3 separate regions of the Homo sapiens genome follow, and regions 2 and 3 are each linked to region 1. Evidence: fine-mapped expression QTL. A gene starts in region 1. Each other region holds a variant in brackets. All regions are shown on one strand. Distances are from middle to middle.

Evidence for each region. PIP is the estimated chance that this variant, and not a neighbour inherited with it, causes the effect. A credible set is the group of variants that fine-mapping cannot tell apart.
Region 2: its variant is the best candidate, but not a certain one, in a credible set for the expression of ADPRHL1 in sigmoid colon (GTEx, PIP 0.69).
Region 3: its variant is the best candidate, but not a certain one, in a credible set for the expression of ADPRHL1 in testis (GTEx, PIP 0.80).

What each region holds. Positions count from the first base shown.
Region 1 is chr13:113,450,032-113,457,733 of GRCh38, forward strand. It overlaps ADPRHL1 (ADP-ribosylhydrolase like 1), which reads right to left and starts at 3,457. Exons shown (of 8, transcript NM_001394807.1): 1 at 3,193-3,457. The coding sequence starts at 3,406. It overlaps DCUN1D2 (defective in cullin neddylation 1 domain containing 2), which reads right to left. Exons shown (of 7, transcript NM_001014283.2): 7 at 5,788-7,702. RefSeq lists enhancers at 1,489-1,990, 5,987-6,917.
Region 2 is chr13:113,411,491-113,419,192 of GRCh38, forward strand. The region is part of intron 7 of ADPRHL1 (ADP-ribosylhydrolase like 1); the gene reads right to left. Among named protein-coding and RNA genes, the nearest start is that of ADPRHL1, 38 kb to the right of the region's middle. RefSeq lists enhancers at 1-120, 5,359-6,359, 6,360-7,360. The variant T/C (reference allele first, on the strand shown) is at 3,386.
Region 3 is chr13:113,400,846-113,408,547 of GRCh38, forward strand. ADPRHL1 (ADP-ribosylhydrolase like 1) reads right to left here. Exons shown (of 8, transcript NM_001394807.1): 8 at 1-7,375. The coding sequence ends at 2,533. Among named protein-coding and RNA genes, the nearest start is that of GRTP1, 41 kb to the left of the region's middle. RefSeq lists enhancers at 4,535-5,329, 6,447-7,132. The variant C/A (reference allele first, on the strand shown) is at 4,347.

The sequences.
Region 1 (7,702 bases):
CGTGAAGCAGCTGGAACAATGCCTGGTACAGAAGTGCTGTGGAGTCAGCACTCACCATTGTCGTTTTGTAGAGATGGAGTCTTGCTATGTTTCCTAGGCTGATCTAGAACTCCTGGGCTCAGGCAATCTGCCCACCGTGGCCTCCCACAATGCTGGGATTGCAGACGTGAGCCACTGTGCCCAGCCCTCACCATTGTTAACACAGCTTAAAGACCCCCTTCCATAGGCTACAATTTGTTATTTAAAGAACAAAGATAAACTTAAGTGAAATTTCGACTTTGATTTTTAGTGAGTTGAAAAAAATCTGCTTGCTTTGGTTTCTAGAGGGGTAAGCTGTAGGGACCAGCCCCACAGGGTCGGTGGGTCTCTCCCTGTGTGCAGTGACGAGAGAGTGTAGAAATAAAGACACAAGACAAGAGATAAGAGAAAAGGCAGCTGGGCCCGGGGGACCACTACTACCAATGCACGGAGACCGGTAGTGGCCCCGAATGTCTGGCTGCACTGTTATTTATTGGATACAAGGCAGAAGGGGCAGGGTAAAGAATGCGAGTCACCTCCAATGGTAGGTAAGGTCATGTGGGTCACGTGTCCACTGGACAGGGGGCCCTTCCCTGCCTGGCAGCCGAGGCAGAGAGGGAGAGGAGACAGAGAGAAAGACAGCTTATGCCATTATTTCTGCATATCAGGGACTATTAGTACTGATAGTACTAATTTTTCACTAATTTACTACTGCTATCTAGAAGGCAGAGCCAGGTGTACAGGATGGAACATGAAGGCAGACTAGGAGTGTGACCACTGAAGCACAGCATCACAGGGAGACGGTTAGGCCTCCGGATAACTGCGGGCGAGCCTGACTCATGTCAGGCCCTCCACAAGAGGTGGAAGAGCAGTCTTCTCTAAACTCCCCTGGGGAAAGGGAGACCCCCCCCCCCTTCCTGGTCTGCTAAGTAGCAGGTGTTGTTCCTTGCCACCTTTTGCTACTGCTGGACCACGATCCGCCTGGTAACGGGCGTCTTCCCAGACGCTGGCGTCACAGCTAGACCAAGGAGCCATCTGGTGGCCCTGTCCGGGCATAACAGAAGGCTCGCACTCTTGTCTTCTGGTCACACCTCACTATGTCCCCTCAGCTCCTATCTCTGTATGGCCTGGTTTTTCCTAGGCTATGATTATAGAGCGAGGATTATCATAATATTGGAATAAAAAGTAATTGCTACAAACTAATGATTAATGATATTCATATATAATCATATCTAAGATCTATATCTGGTATAACTATTCTTGTTTTATTATACTGGAACAGCTCGTGTCCTCTGTCTCTTGCCTCAGTGCCTGGGTGGCTTGCCGCCCACAGTAAGCAATTCCAGGGGTGATCTTGGATGCGTATTTTCTCATGACCCACAAACTAGACGCTGCAGCAGCACAGTGAACCCTCCCTTCCAGTCCACAGCTGAGGACCCTGAGAGCTTAGAGCAAACTTACTTCCTCCTTAAGAATAGCGCCCCATGGTGGCTCACGCCTGTCATCCCAGCACTTTGGGAAGCTGAGGTGGGTGGATCACTTGAGGTCAGGAGTTCGAGACCAGCCTGGACAACGTGGTGAAACCCCGTCTCTACTAAAAATACAAAAATCAGCCGGGCGTGGTGGTGGGCACCTGTAGCCCCAGCTACTCAGGAGGCTGAGGCAGGAGAATCACTTGAACCTGGGAGGTGGAGGTTGCAGTGAGCTGAGATCACGCCACTGCACTCCAGCCTGGGCGATGGAGAAAGACTCCGTCTCAAAAAACAAACAAAAAACAGTGCCCTAAACGTCCGTAACCCTTTTAACTGTGTGAATTTCGTGTCCTGTTGGGCCGATCTCCGTCGGTGCACTTTTGGAGTGTCCTGTGCCGCTGCCCTCCCTGCGGGCCTGGCAGGACCAGACCCACAGCCATGGACGCTGCCATTTACAAAACGCCCACCAAGTGCTACCAGAAATGGGACATGCAGAGCTGGTATGAGCGCACACACGGCATCAGACGCCCAGAGGAAGCCAAACTCAAGAGTGAGCTCCAGCCGTCTACGGTGAAAACAAGCCGGAGCTGTGTCCCACAGGTGTCTGTGTGTGGGGTGCACCTGTTCTGGGCTGCGGGGCACAAGCATGGGGTTGCTGGTCCTAAGGGCACACGAGTGGCCGCCTGGAAAACCAGAAGCAGGAGCTCCTGGACGCCAAGGCTGTGAACAGTCGGACGCCTCCCCGTCTCCAGCAAGCCGGGAGCCTTATCTTATCGCCGGCGCTTCAGCTCTCCCGTTATTTAGGGACCGGCCACAGGCTCGATGGCATTCCTCTGCTGTGAGCACAGAACTAAACTGGGCACGTCCATGGCAGATGAACAGAATGGTGGAGTGAACGCATAAGTGAGATTTCATTGACTTAGCTGCAGCCCTCAGATTTTAATTCTGCCATGATAAACAGCACCCACGGGGTTTTGAAGAGCAAATGCCTCGTAGGAAAGCTGGACTGCATGTCTGTGCACCTGCCATTTCCCTGAAATTCATGCAAAAGCTTGATCCTAAAATCAATTTGCTACTTAAAGGTATTTTAAGAAGCTTTGTCTCCAATCTCGTCCAATCAAGTTTATGTCATTTTCTTAGAACACATTTGTGTATGGGCAACTCTCCAAGCTGAACCATTTTGGGAGATGATATTCTAACTTTAATTCATTGGAATTTAGAACTAATCCCCAAACAGTATTAATGGGTTCACATTTCAAACTGGCTTATTTTACATCCCTTTGTAATGAATTCAGAACAAGAAGGCTTAATCTCTGCAGCGAGAAGTGAGCCCTCACCCTACTCCCACCAGCACGGCCGAGAGAGGCTTCACTGGCTTTAACTCTATTAGAAACAGAAGGTGCTAGGCCTAGTTAACGCTTTACAAATACAAGTGAAAAGTCACGTTTAAAAACTGAATCTTAATAACTGCAAAGTAAAGTAATACTGTCACCCTCAGAGAAACCACAGGAGAAACGTGATCTGCCGCATATCAAATTTGAGGGACACTCAGATTAAATTGCCACTTTTAGCAGCGGTATCAGGTAACACCATCCGCTGAAGGACCGCACTGCCTTCAAAGCTCTCGGAGGCTTACTGGGAGAACTCGAGCAGCCAGTGTTCCCTCCAGCCCGCACACCGGAGCGCGGTGGGCCCAGCCTACCTGTGGTGAGGGCCTCGGCGGTTGCGATGTGCATGATGGTGTTGTCACTCACGGGCCATTCTCCTGGCGAGAGTACGAGGTGGTCCAGGCCCCCGGAACGTTGCAGCTCCTCCTGGATCTTCATGCCTACAGTGCTGTTCTCCTTGCAGACATTTCTGTAGCCAAGAGCATCGCCGACGCTCCCCAGCAACATCGCAGCCTTAAATTTCTCCATCCCAGGAGGCAGCTCCTCTTCCCCAACAGCTGCGGAGCGTCCTGGCCTTTGTCTCCTCCTCAGCCCGCCTGACTTTTATAGTGGTCACTGTGTCACTGTCAGGAGCGTCCTCTGATGGCCAGGCGCTCCTTGTCTATCTCTGCAGGTGGCACCAATGAGAGGACCTTTCTGTCCCCCACGTGGGAGGTGTCAGTTTTCTTCTGCGTCTGGACAGGCACCAGCTCCTCAGCAGAGGAGCCTGCTAGCTTCTGCCGGCAGCCGCAGCACATTCAGAGCGTTGACAGAGCAGGGGCTCCTCTCGCTGTCCCTGGAAGGAGTGCGCACACTTCCCCGTGTGTGGCGTGGGGTGATGCGGGAGCAGATGTGTGCAGGCGTGCCTGTCACTGCCGCCCGCTGCGGGGCGTGCCCTCACCCCTCGGGCAACAACCCATCTGCTGTCTCTACAGTTCTGCCTTTCCTGGACATTTCAAATACAATGTGTGGCCTTCGGTGTCTGGCTTCCTTCACTCAACATAATGTTGAGATTAATCTGTGACATGCGGTTTTATCATTTAGAAAACTTTTCGATTATGAAATGTGTTTTTGATAGAAAACTTTTAAAAAATGCAGTGTAGAGGGAACAAAGTCTATCTAGCTCCTGTGTGAACAATGACGGTGTCTTCTCAGCATGCGGTGTTTAACGGCTCCCAAATAATTGGACTGCACTGAGGGGGAAAGTCGTCAGCAAACCGCAGGCTTCACTAGAACCTCCCATCCGGCCCTCGGTCAGCTCAGTGTATTTACATCATCCCTGCTAGCTCATGAAAAGAATATTAAAAAATATGGAGACGGGGGGTGAGGCAGAATGCACACAGCCAGGGTTCCTGGTTTGAAATAAATTAGGAAAACAGTCCATCTCCCGACCCCACCCCAGGACAGTTCTCCGCAGAGGCCGGGAGCCCAGCAGGGCTGTGTCTCTCCCGTCTCCTTCCTCGGGGCCTGGTTTCCATCAGACCCAGGGGAAGCAAAGAGTTACACCTGGACTGAAGAAATGCGTCTGATAAAAACTCTCGTAGTGTACAGCGAGACAGTAGGAAGCATTTAACCGCCTGGCGTTATATCAGCACTTGTTAAAACGGAGGATCTCAAGCAGTGAGTTCACCTCACCCTCCACTGTCTGCTGGTGGAGGCAGCCATCAGCACAGTCATGCCAGCTAGCATGATCCTGAGATTCAGAAACAAACTTCAAAACCAGCATGCAGGCCGGGCGCGGTGGCTCATGGCTGTAATCCCAGCACTTTGGGAGGCCGAGGCGGGCGGATCCCCTGAGCTCAGGATTTTGAGGCCAGCCTGACCAATATGATGAAACCCCGTCTCTACTAAAAATACAAAAATTAGCCGGGCATGGTGGTGGGCACCTGTAATCCCAGCTACTTGGGAGGCTGAGATAGGAGGATCACTTGAACCTAGGAGGCAGAGGTTGCAGTGAGCCGAGATCACGCCATTGCACTCCAGCCTGGGCAACAAGAGCAAAACTCTGTCTCAGAAACAAACAAACAAACAAACAAAACTCCAAAACAAAAAACAGCATGCACGCAGGGTCCCTATCCAAACAAGACAGACAGGAGGGGCGGCCCTTCGTTCAAACTCTCACCTGTTTTAGGCACAACTGCACTGTGGGGCCGAAGCGTGTGCTGCTGAGGGGATTAACACAGCCCGCTCGCTGAGCGCTTCAGTTCGCAGGCGGCGGAAACCTTTGCCAAGAGCACTAGCTGGCTCCCTCAGCAAACAGGACGGGATAAGGTTAGCTCGTTTATCCAACAAATATTTGCAGAGCCCCTACTTTGTACCTGAAACTGTGGACACAGCAACAAGGATCAGAAGAAAGTTTATTCTTGGCCCCAAGAAGCCTGAGGTCTAAAATGGATATAAACTTCAAGCGAAAATAACACAATGACATGTACAATGTCACTGAGAGGAGCTGGCGTTGTTGATTCCGGAACGCTGGCAGGTGCACCGTGAATCGGCAGGTAGCACATGATCCTCAGACCCCCGTGCTTGGCCGTTTGCCTCCGATAAGGGACGGTTTCCAGCAGTTTGTGCTGGCACACATGACCTCCTGCCCCGACACACTCCCGTAAATCCTGCCTATTGTGAGATCTCTCATTCCTCACATGAGCCACCCCATCAGGTGCACGGTGCACCGCTGAGAGGCAACGCAATGACAGAAGGTACCTGAGGACCTGGTTACCTGGCCAGGGCTGGCGGGCCACACACGGGGGCAGGGGCTTGCCCGCTGGTTGCTAGCTGGGGGCTGTTCTCTCATCCTGGGACAATGACGTGGATGCTGACACCTATAGGCAGACATCCCTGCAGCTGAGGAGAATCGAAAGGAAACCACGCCCGAGAAAAACCAATTTAATGCTTCTGTTCTCAGCATTTCACAGCATGCAGGACTCAAATGGATACAACAGAAGAAAAAAACCCACAATTTTTGGAAAAGCCTTTGTCCAATGATTAATATTTTGATATCTATTGACAATCCCTTAGAACTTTAAATCTCAAAAACAAAAAAGTACTGTGGATCTCCATAGTTTATACAGAATTATGTGAATTCTATAAACTTTTCTGAACAAAACAATTACATGTCAAGAATCCATGAAGCCTGGAAGATACGCTCACGTTTTTGAGGTTTGTATTAATGCCAGTTTTTATTGTATTAGACAAATGCTCTCTGAGAATCGAAGACTTCTAAAGGTAGACAGGCCCAGTTTCCCATTAGAGTTCTGGAAGCAGAGCCTGGGGAAGGTCTGTCACTTGCCCATCACTGGACCAGCCAGAAGCCAGCGGGGGCCAGGCGGGGTCTGCAGGCTGCAGGTCCCTTCCAGTCCTGTCCCTGCTGCCCTCTGTGACCATCTCTGCTAAGAAACATCGACAGTTCGTCCTGCAGCCTCCAAGCACACTAACCTCAGCCATCAGATGTTCCTGAAGCCCAGGGTAAGTCCTGTTCTCAGAAGCCAACCCAGCTGCTTGTCTGGGCCATGCTCTCTCACACCGCAGCTAGGTCATCTGCGGCGACTCTCCTCTGTGCTGGGCAGCAGCTCCAGCTGGTCCACGTCCTGCACAGTGCTGCAGGGGGGCAGCAAGGCACGCCTGTGACATGAGAGTCTCGGCACGTGAGGTAGGGTCAACAGTGATGTCCACAACTCAATACCAGCCCTCCACACCTCGGCAGCACTCGTGGGTCCTCCTCAACCAGGCGGACACGAGAAACAGATGATAACATGGTGCAAGGACAGACTTCAGCTCACCAATCAGATGAAGGTTTTGGGGTTGGGTTTTTTCAGACAACGATGTACATTTTAGCTTCCAAATGTGCACAGGGGCACAAAGGTCTGGATGCTGGGCACTACGGGTACCACAAGAGGATGGAAAGAACCAGCTCATTCGGTTTTATTGTATGTATGTATGTATTTATTTTGAGACAGAATCTCACTCTGTCGTCCAGGCTGGAGTGCAGTGGCGCGATCTCGACTCACTGTAACCTCCGTCTCCTGAGTTCAAGCGAATCTCCTGCCTCAGCCTCCTGAGTAGCTGGGATTACAGGCATGTGCCACCATGCCCGGCTAATTTTTGTATTTTTAGTAGAGACAGGGTTTCACCATGTTGGCCAGGCTGGTCTCAAACTCCTGACCTCAGGTGATCCACCTGCCTCGGCCTCCCAAAATGCTGGGATTACAGGTGTGAGCCACCACGCCCGGCCTTGATTTTAAAATCTATAATTCATCACTCATAAAATAAATGTTTTTCATGGAAAAATGTCTTTTTAAATGTAATTAAAATATATTTTAAAAAAACATACTTTATGAAGCTTCTCAGGCAGGTCAAATAATATTTAAGTAAGAGAGGCCCAGTGATATATAAACGGTGTGAGATAAACTCTGCTGGAATCGTGCCACGTGTGCCGTTGCTATGCAAAGCTACATGGGGATTGAGAACCATAAAATGATTTTCAGATGAATGTCTAGAGAAAATGAAAACAAAAATAGAGCTGGTAAATCTAGATATTTGGTAATTCAAAAAATATAAATCGTGAATTGCTGGCACCAATTTTAAAAAACATTAGACTCTACGACAAGATCCTCTCCCTTAGGGCACATTCTTAACAGCTTTGACGTGTATAAAAACGCAGCGCCCTGCAGAGGACACATGCCGTGTTGCCAGTGCCACCGCAACGTCATTCGGCGGGACGCTGCCGGACGCTGGTTCGCCTGACGCGCGAGCTACGCAGCATGCTCTGCGGTCCCACAGGCGGCG
Region 2 (7,702 bases), 39 kb before region 1:
GGTCAGCGTGTCATCAAGACCTGGCCAGCAACCAGCGGTGAGCGTGGAGGACGTACTTGGCCACCCGGTCCAGCTCTTCAGCTGTCACAGCCGGCTTTCACCCCGCAGCGTGATCATCTGAGACACGTTTTCACTCACAGAGATCAGGATGCTCTTCTGGGTTTATTGGCTGAGGATTAGGGGATTCGGCCAGAGCTACAAAGTCCTCTTTGGGGTGAGCCCCGCCTTGCTGAGGTGTCCTCAGCCATGGACCTGTGGCTGTCGGAGGCGTCCGCGGTTCAGGATGACGCCCTTGGCGGGAGCGAGAGGGGTTTCCACAGCCCCCTTCACAGAGCCTTTGTGTTTTGCAATCATCATTAACCAAGTTCCTCCCTGGGTCTGGCCTGGCCACTCCCCTGCTCCCTGCTGTCCTGCCATTCCCCTGGGCTGCCCCTTCTCGTCACAAAGTCCTGCGCCCACCGCCCACTATTGCGCTCACCCTCTCTGGTCCCCGCCCCTCGTGGTAGCCCCAGAGGTGCTGCTGTCTTTGGGTTCCTTGAACCTGCGGGTGGTTCCTTCTTCCGGGGTCTACTCCCGGCTCAGCATGTTCTGTGCTCTGGGTTTCACTGGTTGGGGGATTCTGGGAGCCCCCAGCTCAGCGTGTGCTGCTGCTGCTGGCACATCCCGGGTGACTACTGTCACAGCACTATAATTTGCTTTTTTTTTGGGACGGAGTCTTGCTCTGTCGCCCAGGCTGGACTGCAGTGGCGCGATCTCGACTCACTGCAAGCTCCGCCTCCCAGGTTCACAGCATTCTCCTGCCTCAGCCTCCCGAGTAGCTGGGACTACAGGCGCCCGCCACCACGCCCGGCTAATTTTTTGTATTTTTTAGTAGAGACGGGGTTTCACCATGTTAGCCAGGATGGTCTCGATCTCCTGACCTCGTGATCCGCCTGCCTCGGCCTCCCAAAGTGCTGGGATGACAGGCGTGAGCCACCGCGCCCAGCCACAGCTCTATAATTTTCTAAGATCCGAGTGCACTTTTCAACAAGTCACCCCTGTTTCTGCCCAGCTCCCCACTAGAGCAGAGCCCCTGCATGGGCGGGACCCCTGTTGGTTCTGGTCTCTACTTTCCCGAGTCCAGAGCAGCGTTGGGCACAGCCGGGCGGGCTGGCAGAAGACCCGTGGGTGGCGAACAGCCCCCGTGGAGGCTCGGTTCACCCACCGCCAACAGTGCCCCGGAGGCTCAGTTCACCCACCGCCAACAGTGCCCCGCGGAGCTCGGTTCACCCACCGCCAACAGCGCCCCGCAGAACTCGGTTCACCCACCGCCAACAGCACCCCGCAGAACTCGGTTCACCCACCGCCAACAGCGCCCCGCAGAGCTCGGTTCACCCACCGCCAACAGCGCCCCGCAGAGCTCGGTTCACCCACCGCCAACAGCACCCCGCAGAACTCGGTTCACCCACCGCCAACAGTGCCCCGCAGAGCTCGGTTCACCCACCGCCAACAGCGCCCCGCAGAGCTCGGTTCACCCACCGCCAACAGCGCCCCGCAGAGCTCGGTTCACCCACCGCCAACAGCGCCCCGCAGAGCTCGGTTCACCCACCGCCAACAGCGCCCCGCAGAGCTCGGTTCACCCACCGCCAACAGCTCCTCGCAGAGCTCGGTTCACCCACCGCCAACAGCGCCTCGCAGAACTCGGTTCACCCACTGCACAACCCTGTTTCTCTCCTGGCCACCCCCTTTTCTGCCAGCTCCAGCCTCCACCCTGTTTGTCCACTCCACGCCCAACCTCGCTGTGCCCTTCAGCCTGGAACAGCCTCGCTGCCTCCCTGACGAGCTCCTATTCATCCTTCACAACCCGGCTCAGATGCCCCCACCTCAGGGAGCCTTTCCCAGAGGCCCAGCTCTGTGAGCCCCACGGTGACCCACACAGACCTCTATGTCCCCACAAAGGGGAACAGCGTGGACGCCAGGAACGCCCCCAAGTCATGGACTGAGAGGGGGGCCCAGGACTTTCGGCGACTCCCGCGTGGGGCTCTGCGTGTCTCCCGAGGCGCCCTGTGATCGGGGCCTTCACTTGCTGTGAAGGTGGGCCTCTCGCCCTTTCCCACCCCTGCTGCACACCTTGCTGCTGAGTGAACGCGTCCTCATGCGCTGGAGCCAGTGCTGCCCCTTGGGCCGTCAGCCCCACCCCTCAAAGCCTCCTGAAAAGGCCCCCGGTCAGAGCTGCGCTGGCGGAGTCTGGGCTGCCCTGTGTGACCGCTGCCCGCCCAGCAGTGCGGGGCGAGACCGGGCCTCCCTCAGCGTCCCCTCAGCACTTGGACAAGCTGCAGAACCCACAGGGAATGGAATGTCTTCCTCCCAGGGGCCAATATAAACAGCAGGGTGCCCGGCTTTCCTAATTTAGTTGTTGGTGGCTCTGGCCAGCCAGAGAGGTCGTTTGAAAATACAATGAGACTAGAGGCCATCACAGCGCAGGAGACACACCCGGGCCCACCATGATATGGACAGCAGCCCCTGTTGGCAGGTTCTTTGCTGGGGACTTTCTGGCCAGCAGGGCCTGGAGGTCACTGTTCTGCCCAGTCAGTGGCTGTGCTGGGCTCACCCGAGCCTGGCCCTGCGGCAGGGAACACCCTCAGCCGCAGTTTCCTCCTCTGAGAGAAGGGCAGGGCCGGTTTCACGTGGCAGCTGGGCCTGCAACTGTCTGGCTGTTCCAGGAGCCTGCTCAGAACACGGACCAGCCTCAGCCATGTCACACACATCCCTGTGCCAGCCTCCACATGTTTCTGACAGGGACACTTGGATGCCCTCGGCCAACAGCGCTTAGAAAACATGTCCTGGGCCTCCATCAACACCAGAGGCCTGCACTGCCATTTCCTGCCCCTCTGCGGATGAGCCTGGAGCCGCCCCCCCTTCCTCCCCTTGGCAGATTGGCCCCCACCCTCCCTCCCTCAGTCCCCAGCCTCCCTGCCCTCTGCGGCTCAGCCCCCGGCTTCCCTCCCCTCTACAGCTCAGTCCCGGCCTCCCCGATATGCTCTCAGGGCACTACAGGCCTGTCTGGGGGCACACATCCTGGCTGTGGCTCCATCTGTGCCTGTGGAACTGCTCTTGTCGCTGTGGTGCCAATGCTCCTCTTCCAGGGGCAGGGCCACGTGCCTCTGCACATCTCCCTGAGTGTGCTGAGCAGGGGTCTTCTGTTTTCTGTTTTTTTTTTTTTTTAGATGGAGTCTTTCTCTGTCACTCAGGCTGGAGTGCAATGGCGTGATCTCGGCTCACTGCAAGCTCCGCCTCCCGGGTTCAAGCCATTCTCCTGCCTCAGCCTCCCAAGTAGCTGGGATTACAGGGGCCCGCCACCACGCCCAGCTAATTTTTGTATTTTTTTAGAGATGAGGTTTCACCA[T/C]GTTGGCTAGGCTGGTTTCGAACTCCTGACCTCATGATCCATGCCCCTCAGCCTCCCAAAGTGCTGGGATTACAGGCATGAGCCACCATGCCCAGCTCAGCCTCTTCTGTTTTTATGGCTGCTTGTTCTGTGCCCATTTTCCCCTGAAGCCATGAAGATCAGGGAGGGCGACACCTCCCTAGGTAGCCAGCGCCCAGCAACCCCCTGGGGCAGGTGAGGAGAGGGGAGGGGCCGTTTGGCAGCTGCGGTGGCAGAGTCCCTTCCACAGCTCATGGACAGAGACACTGGGGCTGCACCTTTGGGCTCCTGGGGTTCTTGCTGGTCAGCCTAGAGGGACGAGAGCCCTTCTGGAGACGCGGACCTGCCCGTGTCCGGGTGGGGCAGGGTGAGAAACGCCTGCCCGCGATGTGGTCCCCAAGCAGAGTGTGGACCTGGAAAGGGTTTAACCAAAGGCATTGAATAAGTGGCCTCCATGGCCCAGCTGCTCTACTGATGACAGGAAATGTTCTGCCCAGAGGCCAGCCAGGCGTGGGCTCAGTGGCCGGCTCCAGGCGACCAGGCAGGGTCCACCGAATTAGTGTTATAAAAAGAGAAGGGCTGGGTGCGGTGGCTCATGCCTGTAATCCCAGCACTTTGGGAGGCCGAGGCAGGCGGATCACGAGGTCAGGAGTTCGAGGCCAGTCTGGCCAACAGGGTGAAACCGCAACTCTACTAAAAACACAAAAATTAGCTGGGCACAGTGGTGTGTACCTGTAGTCCCAGCTACTCAGGAGGCTAAGGCAGGAGAATCACTTGAACCCAGGAAGCAGAGGTTGCAGTGAGCTGAGATCGTGCCACTTCACTCCAGCCTGGGTGACAGAGTGAGACTCCATCTCAAAAAAAAAAAAAAAAAAAAAGAGAGAGAGAGAGAAGCAAGCTCGCCTCCTTAGTAGTTTTTTTAAAATTGGTTTTAAATAACACAGATCCCTTTAATTTGAGGCTCCTAACATTTTACAAATAAATCTATACTTGATCTTAGCCCAAAGGCTGAGGAGAGATTACTAAAGAATCTAATATTAGATTTATGAAAAAGAAAATCTAACCCCAAGGGATGAGTATTTTCTAAAAATCCTGGAAGGCCAGGGGCCCGGCTGGGATCCCGTGGGGTGGCCGAGAGTGGCCCCCAGGCGGCGGCAGAGCTGATCTGGCCAATCCCCTCCCCAGCAGCTTCTGAGCATCATTGCAACGGTCACCGTCTATCTAGTAAAGCCGAGAACAAGTGTTTGCTAACTGCTCCCTGTTGATTTTTTGTAACTAGGTGGGGAATAGCTCAGACTGTACTAATGAATCAGCTGGAGAACCTGAGTATCTGTATTTCCTGGAAATAAATCTGGCTAATGGTCGATGTGGACTTTTGGGCTAGGATACCCCAAGGCCTTGACCTGAACATCTTTTTGTGACCTACATAAGATCTTATATGTGACTGACTTAGCTGGGACCCACAAAGGGGCGTCTGGTAAACCGGCAGTGACCAACGAAGGGATGTCTAGTCGGCCGGCTGTGACTGATAATGGGGACACTGTCCATCCCAGGCTGACTGAGGCCATAAGCGCTGGATGCTCTCCCAGGCCTGAGACATGAGTAAGTCAGCAGAGGGTTCCAGGGATGCTTGCCTGCCGCCTAATTACAGCAACTGCCTAGGGTCCCTCAGTACCTGTGGGACATACAGGGTATCGGGTTAGTGAGCTTCTGTCACCAATTTGTGCTACAAACATATAGATTATAAAGGAAACCGATGAAGCAGTAGGCACAATTTCTAACACATAATAAAAACACAATATAGTATATTATATTGCAACAGGATGCTGTTATGTTGGATAATAGCGTTATTGAAGGTTAAATTCCGATTTTGAATAAGCAAACAGTGGTTACAGAAGAGCCTGTCTTTTCTGAGGAATTTCATCTGAAATATTTATGGTGAGAGGATATAGGGTCGGCAGGTTATTCTCAAATGTTTCAGAAACAATTGTGTGTGCGTGCTCATATGTGCGAGGGTGTGCGTGCGAATGCACGAGTGTGTGCAGTGAGAGATGAGGGAAAATATTAACGGCTGCTGATCCTGGGCAAAGGGGCGTGGGAGTTGTCGGAGCTAGTTTTTTTGAAACAAACTTAAAAGTGAACCATTAAGATAGGAGAGAGAGACAGCAAAGCTGCGTCATGACAGGTGTCATTCAAGGACCGTGACAGCACAGACGGCTGCTGGGAGAGGCGATGCTTTGCGGAACCCCGGATGCACCAGCACCCCACTGGCAGGGCCCCGGGGACTCTGTGCTCTCTGGTTTCCTGGTGTGTGGGACAAGACAAGGCTGTCCCCCCAATCTGCAGGCTGGTCATGGTCCCCGCCGGCACCACCAGGGCCCCAGGTCGTGCAGCCTGTCTTGCCCGAGGGAGAGCCAGAGTGGGGGGTCCTGGGCGATTGCCCTTCTCAGGGTACAAGGAGGATGGGGAAGGCAGGGAGATGCTGCCCACAGGGCCACACGATGGTTCAGACCCTGGGGACCGCCCCTGTGGCCATCAGACAGAACGTTCGCGATGTGTGTGGTGCCAGACACAGAGTGCCCCAGATCAGGCGCAGTCCCTGCCTTTGTCTGTCTGTCCCAGATCAGGCGCGGTCCCTGCCTTTGTCTGTCTGTCCCAGATCAGGCGCTATCCCTGCCTTTGTCTGTCTCAGCCCTTGTTTGCTGACCAGCAGCCGCTGCTCGGGGTGTGGCACACGAATCCCGAGACGGTCTCAGGCTGTTCTTTGAGACTCATGTGAATGCTTTTCCCGCAACAGGCTAAGTGAGCTGATAACTTATTTCTGTGTGTTAACTGGAAATGCGTTTACACACCAGGGATTTTAACCAGGGAAGCTTCTGTGTGTTAACTGGAAATGCGTTTACACACGAGGGATTTTTACCAGGGGAGCTGCAGTGCCTGCACTGAGATTCCAGTTATTTCCAACCTAATGGGACCTTTGGAATGCATTTCAATGATGGAGTTTTTAAAGCACAGATGTTTGGATTGAACATCAGTTTGGGTATTACCAATTTTATCAGCTGATATTTTATTAATTTTTATACCCACAGCCAAAACAGGTGGCATTGGCTTCTGGCAGCTTGGGCCTGAGGTTATGCAATCGCCAGGGTTTGCTGAGGGCTGTGGTGGTGGTGAGGTCTTCCAGAATTAGGGGAAGGGGAGAAGGCTTGAGTGTGGTTTTCGGATGCGTCGGGTTTAAAAGCTACTCTGTGCTCATGAACTGCAGCTCTGGGAGAAATACTCAGACCCCCTGAATCTTAGTTTCCTTGTCTACAAAATGGGGGTAGTAAAAAGGGCCCCGCTTCTAGTGGAGCATGGAATAGACAGGGGAAATAACATTCAAATGCCACCTGCTGCATGGCTGGCCATTAGGGAGCCTGCAGCAGCATGGTTCTCGGTCTGACGGGGGCTGGGCTTCGCCACTTCCTCGGCTGGGTGCTCTGAGCGGCTGCCCTGCCCACTCAAGTCACCGAGCCTCCCTGGATCCGCTTCCTCCAACGTGGGAAAGGAAGGACAGCTCTGCCATGGCTTTCAGATATGAAAACACTGGACACAATAATTTTAAATATAAATGCAAAATCTCTAATCAAAGAGTTTGGGAAAACGGATTCATCTAAATCAGCCTGAAGTCTAAACATGTGTGTGTTACTGACATGCTCATATTCCCACATGGCACATGTTCCTAGTGTGTGACTTCTGTGTGGTGTGTTCATGAGGACACACATGTCCTTTCTCAGCCACGATTGGAACTCTCCATCCCAAGTCCTGGCTTCAGAGCTCACATCCGTGGGCCTGAGAGAAAGGTGTCTGCCAATAGCTTCAGGCTGAGAATGGGCATATTCTGGACCCCACCTTCCTCTGAAGCACCCTTGTCTGCCATCTGGGAGTGAGAGGCACTCATCCTCCTGCCTGCCCCTTCCTGGTGCCTGATGTCTTGCAAGAGATGCGGATCCACAGGGATGTGCAACACTGATGCTCCCAGAGAAGAACCCCTGGGGAGCTACACCTTGCTGGGCCTAAGAGGTTGTATAATGTGCCCTCTTTTCCTTCCCTCCCTCCCTCCCTCCCTTCCTCCCTCCCTTCCTTCCTTTCTTCCCCTTCCCCTCCCCTTCCCTTCCTTCTTCTCCTTCCTTCACTCCCTCCTTCCTTCCTTCTTCCCTCCCTCCCTTTCTTTTTTCTTTCTTTCTTTTTTTTTTCAGGGTCTTACTGTGTTACCCAGTCTGGAGTACAGTGATGTGATCTCACCTCACGGCAACCTCA
Region 3 (7,702 bases), 49 kb before region 1:
GAGGGGTTCAGGCACGACACTTCCGGAGCTGTCATCTGGAGGAGATTCTCATCATTTTTTCCACCACTTAAAATAAAACCACTCAATGCCTTCTCCAGTGTACTCTCTGGTCTATTTAAAAATAGCAGCGCAAGTCCCACCACTTCTTATTTATAAAGGGAACAGCCAGTGAACATATTTTTACCTCCCGTGTCTGTCATCATGTTCTTGCCACTCATTGCCTCCAATTCCAAATAGGTAAAGAGTGAGGGCCGTGCCGCTGTGCCTGGAGTGGCAGGGGCAGCCACACAGACCTGGGGGTCCCTGAGCTCCCCCAGCTCCAGGGAGGACGCCCCAGGCATGAGCAGGGGCCGCCAACAGGACAAAGAGGCCACTCTGTCAGCCTCTGCTGGACCCCTGAGCTCCCCTCTCATGGGCCTCTCCGTTTGGGTGGCTCCGAGAGGCCAACTCCAGCCCCAACTGCAGGCTCCCAGGACTGCAGGGGCAGGGACTCTGGAGGTCCGTGTGCTTCGTGAGAGAGGGGACCCTGTCCTCCTAGCAGGGGTCCAGCGGCACCACAGCAAGACTTCTGTGGCCAAGTACACGCCATGCTCAGCTCTGCCCCCACCCGCACCCCCGGACCATCCTGTGTGCAGCTGGGCTGCCCCGGGACCCACACGCGCGAGGGGCACCCGGTGCTCAGGAGCCTCCACACACAGCAGCTCGCACTTAGAACCCACACGCCAAGCAGAAACCCCTCGAAGCGGGCTGGGAGCACGGACCCCTGATTTATAGAGGAGGCCCCGGGGGCCCTGTCGGGGGAGCTGTGGGGACCGGCCCCCCAGAGCTCAGCACAGCCCGGCCCTCCTTCCAGACACCAGCACTCGCATGTCCCAGCAGGTGAGGGTGGGTCAAACCTGCTGGATCTGAAGTTAATTGTTCGACTGGAAGGAAACCTGTGCGCTCCCCGGAGCATGACGCCACGCCGCCTCCTTGGCGCTGCAGAGCCAAAGCCACTGGCGTCTGCCGGGATGGACCTTCCCTGGAAGGAGAGACCTCAGCCCCGCGTGGGTAGGACGCGCCTGCTGAACGCCCTCTCAGGGCCGACACTGGAAAACACCTTCCTCTAAAGGAACATCCGAGTCAGAAAACAGGTGCTCGCAGCAGGCACCAAAGCGCCTTTGCGAACGCTTAGGGCTGTTTCAGGAAACCGCTCAGTAGCAAAGGCAGAAGATGCCAAGACACCTTCAAAAAGCAGGAATTAACTTTCCACAGGGAGGGCACCACCAAAAACAAGGGTGCGGGGCTGTAGGGCGACAGGCTGCATCGGTTCACGCTGAAAATCCAGCTGCTCCGGGGCCACTCAGGCAGCCGTGTGGCCTCACGGGTCCGGGTTTCAGAGGCCACCGAGTGGCCTGGGACGATGGATCGCGACACGGAGGTGCATGGCTCCATCATGGGGAAGAATGTGCTTTAAAATAGGTGCATGGAGGAAGAGCCTAAAAAATAGTCCAGAGTAGCAACAAAAACCATCTCGAGGCAATGTGACCACAGGTGGCTTTGATTTCCTTCTTGTGCCTCTAGACAGCATTCAAATATTCCAGCCTGAACATGCATTACCTCAGTACCTGAACAGGGCCGGAGTCGTGGGCCGTCTCGGGCCAGGGCAGGAAACACTTCTATGCTGTTCGGGAGGACGGAGGACAGACAGCGAGGCTCTCAGGTCACCGGCACCAGTGGCACCACCCACAGGGACTGCAGGGAAGGGCGGGCAGGCTCCCGTTCGTTCTCCCAGCACCCAGTTTCCAGACGAAGCCTCCCTGGGATCCTGGCTTCCCACGGCTCTGCACTGTCCCTTTCTCAGAACTTAACGTGGGCATTTCCTGAGGCCTCTTCCTCCGGATGAGCTGGTTTCGGCCTGGGATCCCAGCGTCCCCACACCCTCTGGTGACCACCACATGGCCCAGCAGCCACACAGCACCCGGCACCCACCTGGGCGTCTGAGGCTGGAGGAAGCTCTGCCCTTTCTTTCGAGTCATGGGGGTGGGGCGGTGTGCATCACTTTGGGCCCATGGATGGTGGGTGCCATGCGGCCACGTCAGAGCAGGGCATGGTGGGGTGTGGGCAGGGAGCAGTGGGAGGTGGCCCTGTGAGAGCTGGGGAGGTGTCCCAAAGTGCCAGCATCCTGCAGATCGAAGGGGACGCACACACCGTGCCACTGCGGGAGGTGTGAGCTCCACGCTGCAGGCTGTGTGAGAGAGGGGTGAGCCGGCGCCCCCGAGTGAAGACACAAAGAATCCCGAGGGCCTGGTGAGGCCACAGGCCCGCACCTCCCACCCCCATGGCCTCGTGGCTCTGTGGGGTGACAGGAACCCGACCCACATGTAGCTCAATCCTCCCAAGGTCAGCTTGTGAAGAAGGGAAAGAAAATTATGGAAACAGGCGTCTCTGTAGGGGATGCTCCAAGACGCATTTGGAGGCAGGAAAATGCCTGAAGTCCCTCAATGGGCGGATGTCACAGTGCTGGGCGAGCCACGGTGTGTACTCGGGGCCTCACTTTGGGAGCTCAGACGTGTCGCTGGCCCTGACGCTCATTGGTCTGAAGGACAAATCGAAGGCCCTCTGGTCACGGAAGCTCTGGGCTTTGTACTTGGCCAGGTGCCTGGACCTCCCGCGACGCTCGGGCTCCGATGCCTCCATCCTGTCCTGCAGGGCCCTCTCAGCCCCAGGGTGGTCTGGGGACCCCTCCTGGGCCGGGGCCTGGGGAGTCCCGCAGCCCCCAGCCTCAGGCTTGGGCTCAGTTGGGCTCTTTCCCAGCCCCAGGGGAGAGGTGGCAATGCTCTTGCCCCTGAGGGGGCGGCTTCCTGGGGGTGGGTACCCGGCGCTGGGCTCCCCCAGGCCACTGCCCCCTGACTGTCCACCATCCCTGGGGGCTGGGCTTCTGGACCCCCCACTCCTGCCAGCAGCATCCACTCCCTCAGCTATGCCACTAATGGGCTGCTCCCAGGCCCGAGGCGCCATCCCACTTGTCAAGGCCTGTTCCCGACCCTGTTCCCAAGCCCGTTCCTGAGCCCCTTTCTGGGTCTGCCTCTGAGTCTCTATCTGGGTCTGCTCCCAGCCCTGATCCCGAGCCCGATCCCGAGCCCATTCCTGAGCCCCTTTCTGGGCCTGACCCTGAGCCTCTATGTGGGTCTGCTCCCGACCCTGTTCCTGAGCCCGTTCCTGAGCCCCTTTCTGGGCCTGTTCCCGAGCCCGTTCCTGAGCCCCTTTCTGGGCCTGTTCCCGAGCCCGTTCCTGAGCCCCTTTCTGGGCCTGTTCCCGAGCCCGCTCCTGAGCCCCTTTCTGGGCCTGTTCCCGAGCCCGTTCCTGAGCCCCTTTCTGGGCCTGTTCCCGAGCCCGTTCCTGAGCCCCTTTCTGGGCCTGTTCCCGAGCCCGTTCCTGAGCCCCCTTCTGGGCCTGACCCTGAGCCTCTATCTGGGTCTGCTCCTGAGCCTGTTCCTGGGCCCGTTCCTGAGCCCCTTTCTGGGCCTGACCCTGAACCCGTTCCTGAGCCCCTTTCTGGGTCTGTTCCTGAGCCCATTTCTGGGCCTTTATCTGGGTCTGCCACTGGGCCTGTCCCTGAGCCTCTTCCTGGGCCCATTTCTGAACCTCTCCTTGAACCTGTTTCTGGGCCTGTCCCTGAATCTGCCCCTGAGCCCATTTCTGGGCCTGTCCCTGAACCTGTCCCTGGGCCCCACCCTGAGCTGGTTCCTGTGCCTGCCCCTGGGCCTCTATCTGGGTCTGCCACTGGGCCTGTTCTTGAGCGTGTCCCTGAGCCTGTCCCTGGGCCCAATTCTGAAACTGTTTCTGGGCCTGTCCCTGACTGTGTCCCTGGGTCCCACCCTGAGCCTGTTCCTGTGCCTGCCCCTGGGCCTCTATCTGGGTCTGCCACTGGGCCTGTTCTTGAGCGTGTCCCTGAACCTGTCCCCGGTCCCATTCCTGAACCTGTTTCTGGGCCTGTCCTTGGGCTGCCGGGCTTCCCGGCCCCTCGGGCTCCCCTGGAGGCACAGCTGGGTTCCTGGCAGCCCTGGTGCCCTCTCCCCACGCCGTGCTCCGCCCCCGCTCCTCCCAGGGTCCCTGCAGATGCTGCTGACCTTGGTCACTGCGCTGGCAGGCGCCCCCAACCCCAATGGCCATCCCTTTGTCCCCGGCCAGATCCTGTGCCCACCATGTCTGAGGCTCTTTTGCTGGGTTCAGCACAACCTTCGAGCCCGACGGCGCCACCCTCTTCCCCGCATCCCCGGGCTGGGGGGTCTCCTCCTGTGCCTGGTGACTCTGTTGCCTCCCCAGGTCCGCCTGTGTCAGGGGACGCTCCTGGGATTCACCTG[C/A]CTGCGTCCTAGGCTCGGGGACACTGGCCCGGAGCTTTGCCTGTGTGTCACCAGCAGTAGGGGGCAGGTGTGCCTGTAGATGGGGAGGGCCCCGCTGGTGGGTGCCACCTACCCACCCCATGTCCACCTCCGCGGGAGGCACTGCGGGAAGCAGATGGTCAGGCTCCGCCCCACGGGGAAACCTGACGCCCTCCCTGCCCTTTGCCTGTGGGTTCTCAGGAGGCGACGGCGGGAGGCCAGGGCCATAGCTGGGGGACTCTGCCACGCTCCTTGCCTGTGGCCTAGGATGATCAGAAGCAGGAATTCCAGACTCTGTGCTGAAACCCAAAAGGTTTCCTTCCACAGCCACATCCTTTCTGCCTCCTACAGCTGCTGTATGTCTGCTGGCTGCTGATGTGTTTGAAATGTATAATCGGGCCGCCTCTGGGTGCCGGGCGAGGGCCGCAGCATCCTCCGGGTGGCGGGCGAGGGTCGCAATGTCCTCTGGGTGCTGGACGAGGGCCACGCCTCTCAGGAGGCTCCTCCCTGCTGCTCCACTCTTGGGCTCCAAGGATCCCCCAGGGGCCAGGAGGCCGTGGCTGTGAGGGTCTCGAGGGAGAGCCTCTCCTCTGGGGTGGCTTTCGGACAAGGCTCTGCTTCCCCACTGGCCCAGCGTCTCTGGCTCTCCCGCTGTGCGGTCTCCAGGGCTCTGGGTGCTGCCTGGCGCTGGTGCAGGCGTGGCGCGGCTCGCAACGCTCCCTGCAGCTGCCATCGCCCCACAGGCTTTCATACCTGGTTTGGGTGGTTCATTTAATGAGGACAGTGGGTTCTCGCGAACATCATGGCTGGTGATTTCCTCGGCAGCCTTCAGGGGCTGAGAAGACTCTATTAGCAGCGGCCTTCTGCATTCCTCCAGCGCACCGGGCACTGTCATGCCCATCGGGGTGACACCCTCAGGCCCCGTACGCCCCTTGGATGATGCCGCCAGTGACGTGGGGGCTCCTGTTGGGTTTCTCCCAGTCGGGGACGGCACTTGCTGGCTGCTGGAGGCATGGCTGGTGTTTCCCCTCAGAAGGTTTTGTGAGGCTGCAGGATCATTTGTTGCGGAGCCCTTCTTCTGCATTGATATTTCATTAGATTCCGGCAACGGATGCTTCACATCTCTGAGCTCAGAGGTCCTCTCTCCTGAAATATCGTCAGGATTCCTGGGACCGTGTGAATTCTCAAAGCTGCCTTTGTTTTCCTTCCCGCCAGCAGGATCTGTCTGGAGTCTCTGTGTCAGAAGTGTCTCTGGGACACTGTGGTCGGCGCCCACAGCCCCTCTTGCTGCTGCCAGACGCGGAGCTGCCCGTGGCCCCTGCGGCGAAGAGGCGCTGAGTCCCGCCTGCATCCCTGAAAGCTTGCTCAGTTCCACTGGGGCTCGGTGACCCCTTCTGTTCTCAGTCACGGTGGGAAATTCTGTGTGGGCATTTTCAACCACATTCTCTCCTCCACAAATACAAGGTTTGTTTTCACCACTTGACATATTTTGCAGCCTGGTGGGAGGGGCTGGCATTTCATGGACAACTGGAATTTGGACAGTTATCCGTGGAGGCTCCGTGGCAGGCTGTGTTCTCCGAGCAGCCTGGACCGATGGAGCGTTCAGGGGTGGGATGTGCTCCGGCACCTTCTGTTCTGGGAAATACTTCTGGGTGGCAAAGAGGGGGTCTCTCCCTGGGTCTGGGAAGCCTGCTCCTTCCCTTTCATCCTCTGAACTGCAAACAGTCATGGTGATTTCAGGGCCCTCCCCTGCACACTCGCCTGGGGGCCCAGGAGGCCACGTGAGCCTGGCTCCCCTCACCTCCTGGACGCCTCCTGCGGTGCTCTCTGCGGTGGGGTCTGCAGTCCCATCACCTCCGGCTGATCCGGTGCCCCAAGGGCTGGCCGGTCCCAGTGGGGATGATGCAGGCACAAGGCCAGGAAGGACTCCACCTGTGCAGGGAGCACAAGAGAAGGCCAGCGAGGGGACAGCGTGGCCGTCCCTCTGAGCCATCACCTGGGGTGTCACGGGCTTCGAGGGCCTTGGCTGTCTTTGGGGCTCCTCCTCCAGGGGCCCCTTTCCCACTGCTTTGTTCCCACTGGGCCCCGTCTCCCTGGCACTAGGGGGCACGCTGGCTTCTCCTCTGGGTGGACGCCTTGCCTCCGAGTGGCTGATTTTGGTGCAGTGGGACAGCCAGCTCCTGGGGCCACAGACGACGGTGGCGATGCTGAGGGCCGGCAGGGGCTCAGCCGTGCAGGCCAGAAAGCGGGCAGGGGGCATCTTGACGCAGGTGCTGGCCATGGTGGCCGTGTGCAGCACGCGCACCTCCGGCCGGTGCATCCTCTTCCTCTGCAGGTTCCTCTTCTTCCGCTCCTGCGTGTGCAGCCTCAGCGCACTGGCCTCGGAGCACAGGCAGCTGTTCTGCTCGAACTTCTCCCGCAGCTTGGACAGCACCGAGCTCTTGCCCATGATCTTCGGCAAGAGGCCCCTGGCGGCTTTGGGCCGCTCCACAGGGGGCTTCTCGCGTGCTTCTTTCTCCTTCGCCTCCTTCTCCTCGGCGGCCAAGAATATCTTCAGGATGTTTTTCACGGTGCTCTTCCCGGCCGGGTGGCCCCAGCGGGGCTTCTCGCTGAGGCAGGGCTTTGGGGCCGGCTCCTTGGTCTTCTCCAGGAGCTTGTTGATGGTGGCACCCACGAGGCCCCCACCCGGCCCCTGCTTGTCCTTGGAGATCAGCCGGCCCACCTCCCTGGTCCTCTTGAGGTAGCGCTCCCGGCCAGTGCCCAGGAACTTGGCCTGCAGGAGCTGGAAGCGCGTGGGCCGCTGGGTGGCCTCCTGGGTCTGGGGCTGGTGGCTGGGCCTGCTCCCCCCGGCCTCTGTCCCCGGGGGCCGGTCTGCGCGGCCCGTGACGTAGAGCAGCAGGCTGCTGAGGATGGAGTGGGCGGCCGGGTCACAGGCCAGCTTGCCCATCTTCTTCTTCAGGGTTTGGGCGTCCACAGACATGACGTCACTGCAGGTCTTGCTGCTCTTCCGGCTGCAGAGAAAAAGGAATCATCACCTACTTCATCATCATTTTTCTCCAAGATGACTCTATAGAACATTTATCATGGGGCAATCCCACCTTTTCAGGGGCCCCAAAAGTCTGGTAGGGAGAAAAAGAGATTAGGAGCCAGGAGCTGTGGCTTCTGGGCTGTCTCTGCTGTTAATTCGGGGTTGGCAGGGATGCCAAAGCTTTTCTGGGTCACTGTTTCCTGTTAAATGGCAGGAACTTCTGACACACGCTCCTCCTAAGGGCATTGAGGAGTTGACATTGAACAGTTTAGTGAAAGCGTTTGGAAAACCACTTTGCATATGCAACATA